Linked DNA regions of Homo sapiens: region 1 is linked to region 2. A link means that fine-mapping ties the variant in region 2 to the expression of a gene that starts in the linked region. Tissue or cell type: sun-exposed skin. Region 2 holds a variant in brackets; the other region holds the start of a gene. All regions are shown on one strand. Distances are between the middles of the regions.

The links. PIP is the estimated chance that this variant, and not a neighbour inherited with it, causes the effect.
Region 1: it holds the start of ZNF697, and the variant in region 2 is fine-mapped to the expression of ZNF697 in sun-exposed skin (GTEx, PIP 0.98).

Annotation. Positions count from the first base shown.
Region 1 is chr1:119,644,834-119,653,016 of GRCh38, reverse strand. It overlaps ZNF697 (zinc finger protein 697), which reads left to right and starts at 4,751. Exons shown (of 3, transcript NM_001080470.2): 1 at 4,751-5,326. It overlaps LOC124904389 (a long non-coding RNA gene), which reads right to left and starts at 4,701. Exons shown (of 2, transcript XR_007066506.1): 1 at 4,630-4,701; 2 at 4,041-4,293. RefSeq lists enhancers at 4,674-4,743, 3,915-4,755 and silencers at 4,814-4,873, 5,171-5,334.
Region 2 is chr1:119,604,665-119,612,847 of GRCh38, reverse strand. It overlaps the pseudogene HSD3BP5. Among named protein-coding and RNA genes, the nearest start is that of LINC00622, 9.5 kb to the right of the region's middle. RefSeq lists an enhancer at 6,936-8,135. The variant A/G (reference allele first, on the strand shown) is at 4,522.

The sequences.
Region 1 (8,183 bases), 40 kb before region 2:
TTCAGCTTTACTCTCAGAAAGGATTCCTGTTGACTATTTTCCTCCATGATCACAACTGTAAAGGGAATTGAGAAGGATTCCCGTTCTTGGGACCGAATTGTTTTAGCCACCCCCCGCCTTCTCTTGTATTTCAGAGGTATGGAGTCTATCTACGCTCTAGACCCTGTCCTGGGAGTTTCTGTCTTTTAAGGAAAAGCCTTAGAGATGACTCATTTTAACAGTCTTCAGTTTAACAGCCACCATCTTGGCCTCTGCCTAGGGCAACTTGAAATAACTATCTGCAGATGAGGAGGACTAATGGAGTGGCCTTTTGATGCAAGATGGTGTCCTAGTAGATAGCTCTTTAATTAGGGTGACCTGCTTTAGAGCTGTCACCTAGGTATAATTATTAATAGCACCCATACTCACACTCAGAATTGTCCCATTTTGATAAGAAATGATATGGTCACCCAATTAAAATGGGGTTAATTCTTCCCTTCCTCTGGCAGGAACAGCACAGCAGGAGGAGTTTGATGTAGACTCAGGAGACAGTCTATTATCAGTTTTTTACTTATGCCTTTGCTGTCACTGTGTAAGAGGCAGAGGATTTTAGTTTTCTAACGTGGCATGGCTCAATATATCTGACTCCAGACCATTTGGGTTTGCTGGCTACTGGTAGAAGGGGAATCTTTTAATCACACTGTAATTTTTTCCTCTCTGCTACTACATAGGCCAGTTTCAACATTAGCATGGCTTTTTCTTTGGAACATTTATAAAAACTATAAGTAGACCAAACTCTCTAAAACCCTGACATTTGTCAATCAAGACCTCTCAAACTCCACCCTGGAAATGCTGGGGTCTGAGACCTCTCACTCAGTTTCCTGGCTACCATATCACAAGAATTTCCAGTTCTCTAGCCTGGCACAGAGGGATCTTTCCTACTTTCACCATTTCTCAACTCAGCCAATTTTACATTTAAGGATCTGCACTACAGCATCCCACTTCCAGCTATATAGAACTCTTTTGGCTGCAAGAGATAGAACTTAACCCAAAATAGCTTAAGCCCAGAAGGGAATGTTTTGGCTCATGTAACTAAAAAGTCTAAGGGTACCTTGGCTTCAGGCATGATCAAACAAGTCATAAAAATTTGCTTATGCATACATCCCTTCCCACACCCCTTTTCTCAGCTTTGTTTCCTTTAATAGCTTATCCCTCATACAACACTGAATTGGCTAATTGGCGGGTCTTGATCACTACCTGCCAATGAAGTGGAGGTGAAGATGGGCTCTGCCCTTCTCTAAACCACAAGACCTAAGGGTGGAAATGGGGTTTTTTCTCAAAGGTGCTGTTACCAAAAAAAGGGAAAGGGATGCTTGCTAGGTTAAGAAAAACAACAGAGGTCCATCCATTTTATACTTGAAAGCTTAAAAAAATGTAAGCAAATCTGTCCAGACTCAACTCTCTGAAAGATGAGGATGAGAATCATTATTTACTTTGCCTCAAAGTGGTGAAGAAGAAAAAGAAAAGGGCAAGGGTAAAATTTTTTTTAGTTTAAAGATGAAATGAAAATCCACAGGCTTGAAAGTTTGGACTTTCCTGAAGTTGTGGTGTGCCTTTCCAACCTATTGTCAACTTGGAAAAGACTTAATCTTCAACAGTGGAGGAAGCCTCCATTCTCTCCTTTCATTCACTTGTCTGTCACCTTCCCCTGAGGGCCTCAAGGGCAGGAGAGAGCATATGACAAGGAGGAAAGAAATGCCATTTCCTTCTGGTCTCAGACTCTGCGTATCTTAGCTGGGAATATGCAGTTTGGTCATTTCAATCTCAACATTTTCAACACTAAGTTGCAGGAATTAGTTAATTCAACAAGTATTTGTTGAATAAGAATCCCTTATCCTCTTTCGTTCCTCTTTGTTACCCTTTGTTTCTCTCCAAGACTTTTCTCATCAGCATTTAAACATCCTCAAGGCTCTCTCATCTTAAAAACCGAACAAATAAAACCCCTACAAACAGAAGAATGTCCTTTGATCCGACTTCCTTCTCAGCTACCACCCTGTTCAGAACCAAATTTCACATACTACATGTCTTCTTTACCGTCTGTATTTCCTCCCTCCCAAGCCTTCCTCTGGCCACTCCTGTCCACTCCTGCCACTCACTGGAACAGAAGGCTTATGGAAAGAGCCCCACTTTTACAGAACACGAACCCCAGTATAAGGCAGCATTATAGCCCTTAAACACTGTGAAGTAATTTTGTGACATCTGTCTTTTCAACTGGAGTGTGGGCTTCTTGGGGGTAAGACATAGCTGGTAGTTACTCAGTAAAATATCTTACTGTTGAATGTTACATGTCTACTCCAGACATGGAGACTAGCATGAATAAATGTTAAACAAAACTTTGTTGAAGTAACAAAATAACTGAGATTGGAAACAAAAGGATGGGACAGGTTTGGAATGGCGTGAAATAATGAGTGAAAGTTCAATTATTCTGAGCTCAAGTTAGAAGTGTAGGAGAAGGAGGAGAGTGTGTTGTATTAAAAGCAAGGCAAAAAATAGTTTCAATGGGCAATGTTATATGTTAAATGCTACAAGCAAGTATATCATGTTTTTCAGACTGAACACTATTAGAGGCTACTTGATTTGCAAAACAATAATCAATTCTTTGGGGTGGAGATGGGGAGATTAGTTTCACTGGAATGTTACCAGGTTGAGAATATGAAGGAGCAGTAATTTGTAGGGTCCAGAAAATGCAAGGATCACAGCACAATTAATTTAGGTGGACAGTCAACAGAGTGGGCATACAGCAGGACCTTTAGGGTGGGCATACAACAGGAACTTTTGGGAGGTGAACAGTCCTATCTGCATGCTTCTCATCAATTCTACATTTTAATCCAGGCCATCTTATCCGTGAGGTTAAGGATCTCTAGAGAAAGAGAACTCTAGCATAAACTTTACTTAAATGTAAGCTAAACCCTTCACCCAAATGTTTTAATCATATGGATTTAAAATGTGAAATGACAAGTGGAAGTGACACGTAATTATGACCTTATTTTTTGAAACAGAGTCTCAATCTGTCACCCAGGCTGGAGTGCAATCACGGTTCACTGCAGCCTCAAACTCCCAGTCTCAAACGACCCTTCCACTTAAACGACCGAGTAGCTGGGACTACAGGTACGCGCCACCACACCCGCTATTTATTTTATTTTACTTTTCGTAGAAACAGGGTCTCACTGTGTTGCCCAGGCTGGTCTTGAACTCCTGGGCTCAAGTGACCCTCCCACTTCGGCCTCCCAAAGTGCTGTGATTACAGGCATGAGCCACCAAGCCCAGAGACTTTTCTTTCTTTCTTTCTTTTTTTTTTTTGAGACGGAGTCTCACTTTGTTGCCCAGGCTGGAGTGCACTGACATGATCTCAGCTCACTGCAAGGTCTGCCTCCCAGGTTCATTCCAGTCTCCTGCCTCAGCCTCCCGAGTAGCTGGGACTACAGGTGCCCGCCACCACGCCCGGCTAATTTTTGGTGTTTTTTTTTTTAGTAGAGACGGGGTTTCACCGTATTAGCCAGGATGGTCTCCATCTCCTGACCTCGTAGTACGCCCGCCTCGGCCTCCCAAAGTGCTGGGATTACAGGCGTGAGCCACCGCGCCCGGCCTCCCAGAGACTTTTCTATCTGATTACTTTTCAAACACATTCTAGAGCATCCTAGAACTTGTCCTTTCCTAGTTCAGTTTATTACTTTCTGCTCATGCTCCAGGAGAGAATATAGCTTTTAGTCATTTAGTCTCTATGTGGTCCTTCCTTGATTTTCTAAGGGTCCTGAGTCTGTGGTCCCAGAAATAGACAAAAACATGTGCAGGGCATCATAGACTCTTGCTAGGCTGGAAGTAGAGTTCCTCTCTTGTAGCCAATGTCCTCTTCTCCTCACCCTTCCACTCCCGAAATACACACACTCAATATACAGTGGCCAGCACATCTGTTTTATGGGACCAAGAAGCTGAATCCTAAAGGTTAATGAAGGAAAGATACGCAGAAAGTCCAGCACTTTCCTAATTCAGCAGCACACAGGTTTTCACGTCTAATATTTAATTTACGTAATTTATTTTCAATCTCAATTTAATTGCTTTTCTTGAAAAGATGTTTGGGACAAGGTCAACAATGAGGGAGGAATGTCACCGGGTCGGGATCTGGAAACAATCAGCTCTGTATGGTTTTAAAGATGAAGCGCCAAGATCTTAAGGAACCTGAATTCCTGGTGAGCAATCAAGTTCTTTAATCGGCCCCCAGCAGGATGTCAACGGCGTAAAAGACAAAAAGAAAATCTATTTTAAAAGATAGATTTTGTGTTTTTAGATTAATTTTTAAAAAGCGAACCCACCACAAACTTCCCAGTTTTTAAAGAAAAGGCCTCTCCCACCGCAGAGCCCTCCCGAACCATGGGACAGCTCAGCGGCAGCGTCCCACCGGCTGCCCGCAACCGGTGCCGCGAGCTCGGAGTGCAGCGCTGGGATCTCGCGTGCTCCGGGACAGCGGGCTCCTTGAGCGCCGCGGGGCGGGGCGTGGGGCAAGACCCGCCGGCCGCTCCCTTCCCCACAGCGCTTAGAGAAGCAGCGAGCGCCTTTCCTCCTGTCCCGGAGTCCTAGCCTGGCCCGAGCTACCTCCAGGGCGCCCGCTGCTGCGGTGGCAGGAAGTCCCCGGGAACTACAAATCGAGGCATGCTGGGAACATTCTCCCGCTCCTCCCAGGAAATGTCCTTTGTCCAGCCCTACAGGAAGCCCCAGTGAGGAGTCAGCCGGGCAGCCAGCCAGCGAGCCAGCCAGCCAGCCAGCCAGCCAGCCAGCCAACCAGCCAGCCAGCGGGCCACCCAGCGGCCGCTGCAGCCGCCGCCGCCGCACAAGGGCAGACGCGCTGCGGTGCGGGGCTCGGGCCGGGGCGCTCGGTGCCCTAGCTCCTCGCCGCGCCAGCCGCCTCGCAGGTAGGAGCGTGGCTGTGGCTGGGCTCAACCGCCTCCCGGGGATGGGGCTGATCGGGACCAGACCCGACCGCTGCGGGGATGGGGTGTGTGTTCGAGTGCGGTGGCGGAACGGCTGGGCGAAGTTGTGCCTCGTAAAGTGGACCGTTGTCCGCTCCCCTGGGGCGCAGGGCCCCGGGCTTATGGGGTGCTCTCGCGCCCCCAAAGCCAGGACTGAGCTCCCTCAGGGGTATGTGGCGAGGGGCGGGGAGGAGGAGGCTGAGACTTGAGGGAGGAGACAGCGATGCAAGAGGGAATAGGACCGTCCCGCCGACCACCGAAGGGGGCATCAGAGACCCTCGGAGAAACCAAGCCCAGGGAGGAGCTTGGAAGGCAAGGAGAAGGTGAAGGGCTTTGTGTGCAGCTGTGGACCTTGACGGACTGCGCTCCCCTTGCCTTGTCTGTTCGTGCCTCCAGCCCCACTGGGGCTAAGGGAGGGTGGGGGGCTCCGAGAAGGGCAGGAGAGAGGCGGCAGGTCATCTTGGGTCCTAGTGAATGAAATGTGTGCCTCCCTTTTCCTCTCTTCTCCATTCTAGCCCACTCAAATGAGCGGCTTTGGGGCTGCCATCAGACCGGGCAAATGACACAATAAGGACGGGTGGGTGGAGAGATGGGCAGCAGCTCGCAGCCCAAGAGGGGTGGCCGTCTAGCCCCGGGAGGCATTCCAACCACACGTGTCCATGTAGGTAGGTGGTGGGGTGGTGGGCAAAGCTGGAACCTGCACCTCGCGGGGATGCCGAGGCTCAGGATTGTGCATGGAGGCACGGGTGAGGCGCGTGTTGGGAGGAGTGGGTGAGTAAAAGGTTGAGGGGGAGCAGCGACACAGAGGCGCTGAGTGTACCTTATGGCCAATGTACATTATGGCCATGCATCGGGAACTGACTACCACTTCCTCTGGGACTTTCCACGATTTTCCTTTTTCCTAACCGCCTCCCCCAACCGCCCCCGCCCTGCCTCCCCCACAGGAGTGAATCACCCACCCCTTACTACATGAACCCTGGGCTGAATTGAAGTTGGTGATGTATCCCTGTCCTTGTAGTGGGCATGTTTGTCCTTAACCTGTAGGATGACACCAATACTCCGCATCCCCTACTGCGTTACCCTCCTCCCTCAAGACTGAGCGTCTGGTAAATGCGGTTGGATAATGGCTAGCGAGTTAAATGTCTTTGAGTAGCTGTGGTGGATGAGTGGGCAACTTTGAATACAGTCCAAGTGTGACTGTTGTAACTGAACTCAGCATGCCTAAGGGGCCACACTCACTATCTCTCCTTTCTCCCCTCACCTGATTTTTTGTTGATGCCCCCAACTGTTTACCTTCTTCTCTCAACAAGCCAACATGTGGATATTATTTAATGTGGAATACGTTTGAGGAACCAAATGAACCTTTAAGAATGCCACTTATATGGCCAGGCAGGAGTATGCAAGGCTCATGGTCGAAAGAATGATGCTGTAGGACATGGAGAGAGCCCTGAGCCTGATATAAATGGCTTTCGAGGTGAAACAAAACATTTCTTCCTTAGCTTCTTTGGGAGAGATGAGGCATTTGAACTGAGATAAAGAATGGAATCGAGAAAAAAAACCGAGTTGTTTAGGATGAGGCCATGAGGATAATGAAGTGAAGGGAAGAGGCTCTGTGAATTTAGATGATTTCTAGTTAGAACATATTGGCCGTGTGTGTGTGTGTGTGTGTGTGTGTGTGTGTGTGTGTGTGTTGGAAGTGGGGGTTGTTGTTAAGGGAAAGTTGATGTCAAAAGTTCAGCCATGCCCAACAGAGAATAAGATGGCATCCTATTGAACAAGATCATAAATATGAAGTCAGGCTGCCCTTTACATTACACAAAGGAACACATAGATGGCTTTTCAGAACTACTGGGATAGAGGGGTAAATGGATGCTAGTCAGACAGAAGAACCGGCTGGATTGATGCGGCTGGATTGAAGTGGTAAATAGTGACCTCACATCAGCAGCATGACTAAGGCTCATGGAGTTGCATCACATTTCCTCTCCCTCCCCCACCAAAACTCTTTGAATTTCCTCAGAATCTACATTTTTTGCCTAATTACTAGTGTCCTGTGAAGGGAAGGAGAAAGGGTAAAGGTTGGTTGTAAGGATGATAAACTAAGGCAAGAAGGAGCTTGTCTGCTTATGTAGAAAGAAAAAAATAGCTACAGTGTCAGTAAGAGGTCTGGAGCTTGAACCTATGTCAGTACCATATGGGCTTTTCTTTGTATCTAAGATTCTACTTCTTTTTTCTTTTCTTTCACCTGCCCCTTAACAGGTTTCTCAGTACCACACACTATGTAGAGTTAATATAATCAACAAAAGTAACTCCTTACTTTGGGATTTAAAATTCTTCACAATTCAGTGCCTACCTACCCCTCTCCTTTACTGGACCTGTGCCACCCCAATTTACCTACCCATCCTTCGAGCAAATAGCTCCCCAGTCCTTGAAGATGCAACAGACATTCTTCTACCTCCGTGACTGTCCGGTTGAACCCCATGCTTGCTGGACATCCCTGTACCTGTCCCTAATTATTTTTGTACATATCCTGGCCCAGCTGATTAGCTCCCTTACAGAACTCTTCCCAAACTTTACAGTCAAAATTAATCTTACCCCTTGGTAATTTGTATTATTTCAATGACACCTGCTTTAGGTGTTAATATCTAACAAGTGCCCAAAGGATGTTTGATTTGAAAACATGAATAAATCAAAGAAGGAGTGAAAGGATAAAAAAAATCTTAATTATCTTGCCTTTTCTTTAGAAAATGGGATGGAGCCTTTCTCATAGACCTGTGATGATTCATTGCAATTGTGAAAATAAAGCACCTAGGACATGTCAGACTGAGGCTTTTCCTTTTGCTCCTGGGTTAAGAGACCCTAAAAGTACCTATCACAGTGTCTAGTACAAGGACATTCACAAAAAGTTTGTTGAATAAGTTATTTGCCAGCCTACATTTTAAACTCTCAGGCAGAATATGGAGTGGATTAATCCCAAGCAAATAATCAACAATTTTTGTCATTGTCCTAGACTGAAGAAGGTAACTGTTTCCATTCAATTATGAAGGTGCAAAGTGCTCATTGGAAAAGCAGCACTACGAAGACTGTCCTGCTATAGCCAGACATTTACCATGCCATTTTTATTTTTATAGCCCAAGCAATCTATGAGGATTAAAATGTAGCATATAGAAATAGAAAACAAAT
Region 2 (8,183 bases):
AGTGACCCCTTTCCCACCTGGGTCTTTGCAGACTCCATTGTCTCCACCTGGAATACTTTCCCTCACATTCCTGTCTGTTGAAATCCTACCCATCTTCTGATATTTAGCCCAAATGCAAGGACTCCATGAATCCCCTATGGGAATGGATCTCCCGGAAGCATTTTCCTTTCTTATGGCACTCTTCACATTTACTGTGCACTGCACCTAACACGTCTCCTATTTTATCTCCCGCACTGGACCACTAGACTGGGAGCAGAAGTGGAAAATCGGAGGCCTTAATCCTGGGGCCAGGCTGTGAGTGTGTTTTCTTAGTTTGCATATTTGTTCCCCACCAAATTTAATTTATTAAAAAATTATAACCTATGTTAAACATACAGGAAAGCTGAGAGTATGATATAATAATGTATATTTGGGACTTATCGCCAAGAATGAATAGATTTGCTGCTGACACCTCGCCACCCACTTTTTAAGATATAAATTATTGCACATACAGTTGGAACACTAGCCCACACATCCCTCTCCTGGAGCAGATCTTCACACTGCTTTTTCAAATTTAGAGTTAGTCACTAATATTTAGAAATCACGGGATTTCACATCATAATGGTCACTTTCCTGCCGGTTCTCACCAGTCCATCACAGGCTCTGGCCCATCCTGGCCCTTGGAACCTGCCTGTCTAGTCTGTGGCTTAGTCTGGCACCCGAGCTCTCTCATCTGCCCTCTGTACATGCTTTCCAGAAGGCGAGGGGCCTCCTCATGCCCCTCCATCCTCCTCTGCACCACTGCTCGGTCTGTGCCCACTGCCTGGACTGAGGAATTCAAGGCCTCATTCAAGCCCCACTGGCTCCTGTGGCTTTTCCCAGTGACTTCGGCTCAGCTCCATTCTCAGTACTCATATACACCTAGCCCTTAAGCCGGTGGTTGAGCATTTGCCTGTGCTTTTATTCAATCCTTTGTCAGGTACCCTGCAGAGCCACCCAGGTGGAGAAAAAGGACCCAAAAATCCCGGCCAGGTCAGGCTTCCTTGTTCTTCCCTCTTAGCCTTTGCTGCCCCCGTGTGGTGCACCACGTGAGGTGCAGCGGGGCTTGGTGCAGGAGCTTTACCTGCTTGGCACTCTCAGGTGTAAGAAGGGATGGCAAATTTTGTTGGCCACAACACTGCGAGGCGTTTGTGCTTGTTCAGTTGAGACTGTTGACTCATCCGGCCCCCTCGTCTCTTTCTTTGAACTCCCCTCGCTGCCCGTCGGAGATCTGTCATTTTCCTTCATTTCCCTGTGAAAATTGCCCTGGTGGTTTCCTAAGTGTAGGGTTTCACTAGGCTGAAAAACCAGGGGAAGGGCTCTTGTCCCTGATTCCACCACCCTCCGTTGATTCCCGTGGTACTTGGCATTAACATATGGATCGTGCGCACGCCTTACAAGAGCTGGAGAGATGCTGGCTCTTGCATTTTGTGCGGTGGCTGGGGAAGGAGGGGTGTTGCATTTTTCACCTTACCCCACTGCCTGGAGCCACTCGCCCCTGATGCTAGTGCTGATCATCTGTTCCTTGGGGTTTTGAAGGTGGTGGAAACCTGTTCATCTGGGCCAGAATGTGGTTCCCTTTTCTCTTCAGAATGAACACTGAAACTAACTCCATTGTGGTAATCAAATTCAACTGATTAATGATCTGTAAATTTCCTGTGTAAGAAAGAAGTCATTTTGATGTTGGATGTGACTCTCATCATGGCTGTGATACACAAAGGTCCAGAGGGAGACAGCTTCCATCTCCACACTCTGGACCCATAGCAACCTCCTCACCTGCTTCAGTTCAACTCTGTCCCTGACGCCCCTGACAGTGTTTCTTTTGAGTGTGTTTTCATTGATTGGTTAATGACTGTGTCATCACTGAAGTCCCCAAACTTGTCTTGATTGGCCTCCTCTCTTCAGGGAAATTGAGAAGAATGAGAGAACCAGTGATTAAAGAGGAGATGGAGGGAAGAAAGAGCCTAAGGATATGGAAGAATAAAGGAAGAAAGTATGTGATTTAAAGAAGAGGAGAAAGGAGAGAGAGAGGCAGTTAAATCTGGGGATGTGGGATAATAGACTTCTAATTTTGGGCTGAGTAGAAGGTATATTTTGGGAGAAGTTCACACTTGTTTTCTTTACTTGCCCAGGAACCCATGGTGTGGCTCATTGTGTGATTTGAAAGGGTGAAATGCAGGGTTATGTATGATCAGAATGGCCAACACACATATAGCCAGGAGTGTTCTAGAGACCTTCTAGGAAATTGGCACCGAAGCTGGTAGAGGCTGAATGCGTTTTTGTTTCTTTCAGCCCTGCTCGGGGCCATTAGGAAAGGCGTGCAATCTCTTTCAGATGCCCCTCAGGGATTCTCCTGGGTTCTAGAGAATCCCCTGCGTGCGACTGGGCAAGAAAGAGGTAACCCAAAAAAGCTGGGGCCCTCCAAAGTATCAGCACCCCATGCTCCAGTGTTCTGCTGTACCACTGACAAGACCAGTTCAGGCTGTGTGATTCCGTGGAAAGATAAGGACTTTCAAGGTCAACTGCCTTTTAGAAGGCCTAGCCATTAATCAGTTAGTGTGACTGTGAACAAGTTTCCTCACCGGTAAAATGGGAATAGTCACCCCTCGTGATAGGTTTCTGATGAGTATTCAGTGAGGGAATATATGTCATATGTAGGTCATGTTGTACACGCCTGAAACATAGTAGAGCTTATTCAGTCTTCATCGCCCTTCCTGACCCTCCCACTACTCTGCCCACCCCTCATCCCCAGCTCCATGCTACTCTCCTAGGTAAAAGATGGTGATACCTGGAAATGAAAAGGAACAAGGAAAGTATGTATTAACAGAAACCACGCCTCCCTCCAGGTTAGGCATTAAAACATTTATTGCTCTTTACATTGAACTGCGTGAAGAAATAGGAGATTTAAAAGAAAAGAAATGAAATCCTTTCTCATTTAAGAGGAGAAATGGAGCTCTAGTAGTTAAAAGCGACCCTCAAGTTAAAAGAGACCACAAGCCGGGCGCGGTGGCTCACGCCTGTAATCCCAGCACTTTGGGAGGCCGAGGCAGGCAGACCACGAGGTCAGGAGATTGATACCATCCTGGCTAACACGGTGAAACCCCGTCTCTACTAAAAATACAAAAAATTAGCTGGGCGTGGTGGCAGGTGCCTGTAGTCCCAGCTGCTCGGGGGGGCTGAGGCAGGAGAATGGTGTGAACCTGGGAGGCGGAGCTTGCAGTGAGCAGAGATTGCGCCACTGCACTCCAGCCTGGGGGACAGAGCCAGACTCTGTCTCAAAGGAAAAAAAAAAAAAGAGAGAGAGACCACAATTGTTCAGAATGAGCCACTGAGATTTGGAAAAAGCAAATCACATTGTATTTCCTCTGGTATATGATTAGGACAGAAAGCTCCTGGTTGAGCCAGGGAATGGGCAGGTTTTGATGACATGAGGAAGACAATAAGTTGGGCATTGTGTGAAAGGGAGACAACAGGACCTGGGCTTGTGCCATTGTCACCTTCTGTATGAAGCCAGGAGGATGGAGCTTGATGACATCACCTAACAATACCCACATGCACATCTCTGTCATCCTTAAATCGCTGAGTCTTGGACTTCACGGTCTCCTTGTGCCAGTCCACAAGGGAAACCCACTCCACGGTTCTAACAGACTCAGGTACATTCTTCTTGGCTTCCTCCCAGCTGTAAAGTGGCTTATATGCCAGATCTTGCTGAGCCTTCTTGTAAGAGAAGGTGAACACGCTATTTGACAATGTCACTCTGTGGTGGTTGAAGGGTGTCGATAGGTGTAAATTGGCCTCAGCAGGAAGCTCACTATTTCCAGCAGGAAGCCAATCCAGTACATCAGAGATAAAGGAAGGCTCCATCTAGAATCAAGGCAGAGGCCGAACTCTTTGCTCAGGATGTAATTAAGGTTATCATAGCTTTGGTGAGGCATGTCATCTGAGATGTAGTAGAACTGTCCTCGGACACTTGGGGCCTTCTTGGGCTCCCGCAGGGCCTCAAGGCCAGAATGTGGGCCCAGGCCATGTTTCCAATATAGACTGGGTTGACTCTGGAGAACTTGCTGAAACTTGACAGGATCCCATGGTTGTTTAGGGCCTCATTTATACCGGCAGAAAGGATTGGGCTTCCTTCCCCATAGATAAACATTGGTCTTAAGGCACAAGTGTACAAGGTGCCACCGTTTTTCAGAGTCCACCCATTAGCCGCCAGCACAGCCTTCTCAGCAAGCTTTTTGCTGTGTGGGTATGGAGCGTACCATGTGTTTTCCAGAGGCTCTTCTTCGTGACTGTTCTGGATGATTTCCTTGTAGGAATTGGGCCCGGCTACCTCTGGGGTACTGGTGTAGATGAAGACTGGCACTGTAGCTTGGACACAGGCCTCCAACAGAAGCTGGGTACCTACCAACGAAAAGCATTCTGTCAGTGTCAGGAAATATCCCTAAGGGGCCCCAACCACGTGCACATATCTCCACTCCCAAGTGCAGTGGTTATAACAGACTC[A/G]GGTACATTCTTTTGTGGCTCTGACTGAGACTGGGCCATGCTACAGCCATAGGAAAAACACCAAAATGAAAAGAAACTGACATATGGATTCTGGAGAGCAAGAATTTCTAGACTTTTGGGTGTTTGGATGTGTGTGTGTGTTTTTGTGTGTGTGTGTGTGTGTGTAGTTTAATTTTGGCAAAGGACCTAGGGTTATCACTTTATATTTTGCCAAGTAAGGATGTTGAAAATTATAATGTGACATCAATACCATTAAAGGCAGATTATTGAAAAACTAAAAAATCAGGAAGATATACTCTGAGAATATGGACAGTCCTGGTTCTTTGGCAAAAAAGGGCAGTAGAAGAATTTACATCACACACACAGACACCCATATACAGTTGTATATAAGCAATATACACTCTTAAATATACTGTTGAATATACATGCAATTGCTGGTATTTTTCTCATTTTGAGTGGACTGGTAAAACTTTGTCACCAGGACCATTCCTGGAGTCATTGAGCGAACAGTGGCTTGTGGGGAGATGCTGGAAACCCACACTCTTTTCCTGATTGTGCATTCCCTGGGAAAGCTGCTTCCAATTCTGGCTGTGACTCTGTTTACCTGGTTATGTAAAGTCGGGGTGATAAACCTTCCTTTAAACCCTGCCCTGGCGTTTCCTGTGGAGCCTGGTGGAGGACTGGGGAGAGGAGTGTGCCCTCTGCTGGTAACACCTGTACTGGGAGGACCTTGCCGCCTCCCCTGAGCTGTGTGGAAGTGTAGCTCATGGAGGTGTTCGGAGTGCCTTCCCTTGAAGAAGGAAGGAATTTCCTAGGCAAAGGATTATTATTTTTTCTTATTTTTTTTTATTCTTGGCCCTGTTTAAAGTCTCTGTGGAATTTGAGTTTCTGGAGAGACAGCCTCATGTTTTCAACAATTAATCTGGTGGCAGAGAAAATGCGGAAGTAGTTTACCTTCAAGGGGGAAATGACCAACATTGTGAAATATTTTCTAAGTCTTGGAGTGATAATGGTTTAGGAAACAGATGCCTCTAACACTTCCCCTGTCATTTTACCTTTCTTGTTGTTGGGAGCTGTGGAGAGTTAATAATTCAAATGAAACACTGGTTACTCTTAACACCCTCCTCACACTGTAGAGGTACTTAAAGGTATGCGTAAGTAGAAACTGGAAAGGTTTTTTTTTTTTGAGATGGTGCTGGAGACCCAAAAGCAATTAGTTGCTTTAGAAAAGGTGTCAGAGTAGACTGAATGTGGAGGGCTAGGCCAGTGGTGGGGTGCTGTGGTGCTGAAGAGACTGGGCTCTGGGAATCAGAGGGTGAGACTGCATGACGAGATTCCTTAAGGGAATGTGTCTGAATTTAAAGTAGTTTGGAAAGCTGCAATTCGGAAAGACCACCAAGACTTTAAGGGATGAGGATTGAATGAAGGTGCATGTTGGACACCTGGCTGGGAATGGCTCTGTAATAGCAGGCCCTGTGGCGAGCTGAAGAGACTGTGTATTCTGGACACTGGGAAACCCTTTTTCTTAAGAAAATATTGTGAGAAAGCATGTGCTGGATAATTCAGTCCTGACAGACCTCTGTGGACCAACTTTACTAATTCTCTCGAGAGAACTTCTTTGAGGTGGGCAGGAGGGCTCTGAATGTTCTTGATATGGGAGTGCTGGGAAGGGAAGAGCATGGTCCCTTTAAATGATATGGGAGGGGGGAAGGGAAGTGCTGGGTGAAGGAGGGTGTGGTCCCTGGCTATGGCTCTACTCCCAGGGACCTAGATGAGGACAAACATTTTCTGCCCAAATGTTGCATTTCCCAAGACCACCCTGGCCTGCCATGCCCCAATTCTCTGCCTATAAAACCCCCAAGACCCTAGCAGGACACACACAAACTGCCTGACAATGAGAGGAGCAGATTGGCAGAAGAAGATAGAAGGGGCTGGATGTCAGGAGGGGCACATCAGTGGAGGCACACATCAGCAGAGGAACACATGGGCAGCTGGACGTTGGGAGGAACACACCGCCCAGCAGAATGATGTGGAGTTTCCCTGGGATGGTCGGAGAAGAGTTGGGCAGTTGAACGGCCAACTCCATGGGAAAACCCTCCCCTTCTGGCATCCCCCAGCTGCTGAGAGCTACCTTCACTCAACAAAACCTGGCACTCATTCTCCAAGCCCAGGTGTGATCTAATTTCTCTGGTAACCAAAACAAGAACCCAGGATACAGAAAGCCCTCTGACCTTCCGACAAGGTAGAGGGTCTAATTTAGCTGGTTAAAACAAGCCGCCTGTAGATGTCAAAACTAAAAGAGCAAGACTAAAAGAGCACCATGTAACACACACCCACTGAGGCTTCAGGAGCTGTAAACATTCACCCCAGACACTGCTATGGTGTCGGAGTCCCACAGCCTGCCTGTCTCTATGCTCCCACAGAGGTTTGAGCAGTGAGGCATTGAAGAAGCAAGCCACACCCTCATTGCATGCCTGGTGAGGGGGATGAGGGAATTTTTCCCATTTCATTATCATAAGCCTACGCACAAGGTGACTTGTGTGTAGCACAATGATGACTATGGTGGCACCTGGAAGGTTTGATTCTGTCCCATAGAGGGATATCAAGAGTCTGAAGTTGGAATTTAGTTGACTTTTGATTGAAGCCACTATAGAAAGAGTGTCCACAGCCTTTGGAGTCACACAGGGGTGAGTTTAAAGTCTAACTCTCCTATTTACTTACTTACCTGGGGGGGCCTTGGACAAGTTACTTGCCATCTGTAGCACTGGTTTCCTCATGTAAAAAACTGAAGATAGCAGCTTTGAACTCCCCCAGTTGGTAGTGATCAGCAAAGACACTTGGTCCAGAGCATAGCAGGTGTTCAGTGGAGAGACTTCTTTTCCCTTCCTGTCCTTCTTTGTGATCCTTAATTCCCCACCTTGCTTCATCTCCTCCCCAGGCTACTGTACGTTTCACATTGATGTTCATGATGGACTCTCTGTGAGTGACACCGATGATGTCTATGATGGAGGTGGTGTGGATGATGACCGACATGTCCTGGCAGGCTCTCTTCAGGCATGACTCATCCAGAATGTCTCCTTCCAGCACCGTCAGCTTGGTCTTGTTCTGGAGCTCTGTGTGAACACCGGTCAGGTTATCAGAACGATTTCTGAAACGATTTCTGAAACTGATAAAGATGTTGTTACATAGATGTTCGAGGATGGCTAGAGTCAGGGTGTTGGAGTGGAGGGTGTACATTCCATGGAAGGAACAAGTAAACAGGGACACAGAAGTCAGAATATGTAGCAATTTATTGGGAAAGAGCAAACATCTGTTTCTACCCCATCTCATTTAAGAAAAGTAATCTGAGCAATGAGCTGTCAGGTGTGCTTGGAATATAAGCATTTCTAGAGTCATGGGAGACTCACTAAAATATTTAAAGAGAGTAAGGTGACTGTGGAGAGTTGGGTATAAGAGGGAAAATTTGAATTTAATTCTGCTGGTGATGCGGGATCATGATTTTGGGTCTCCAGCACCATGTCAAAGAAAATCCCTTATTTATATTTGGAATAAGTAGAGAAACAGGCAGAGCATGGTGGCTGACACCTGTAATTCCAGCACTTTGGGAGGCTGAGGTGGGCAGATTGCTTGCACCCAGGAGGTCAAGACCAGCCTGGACAGCC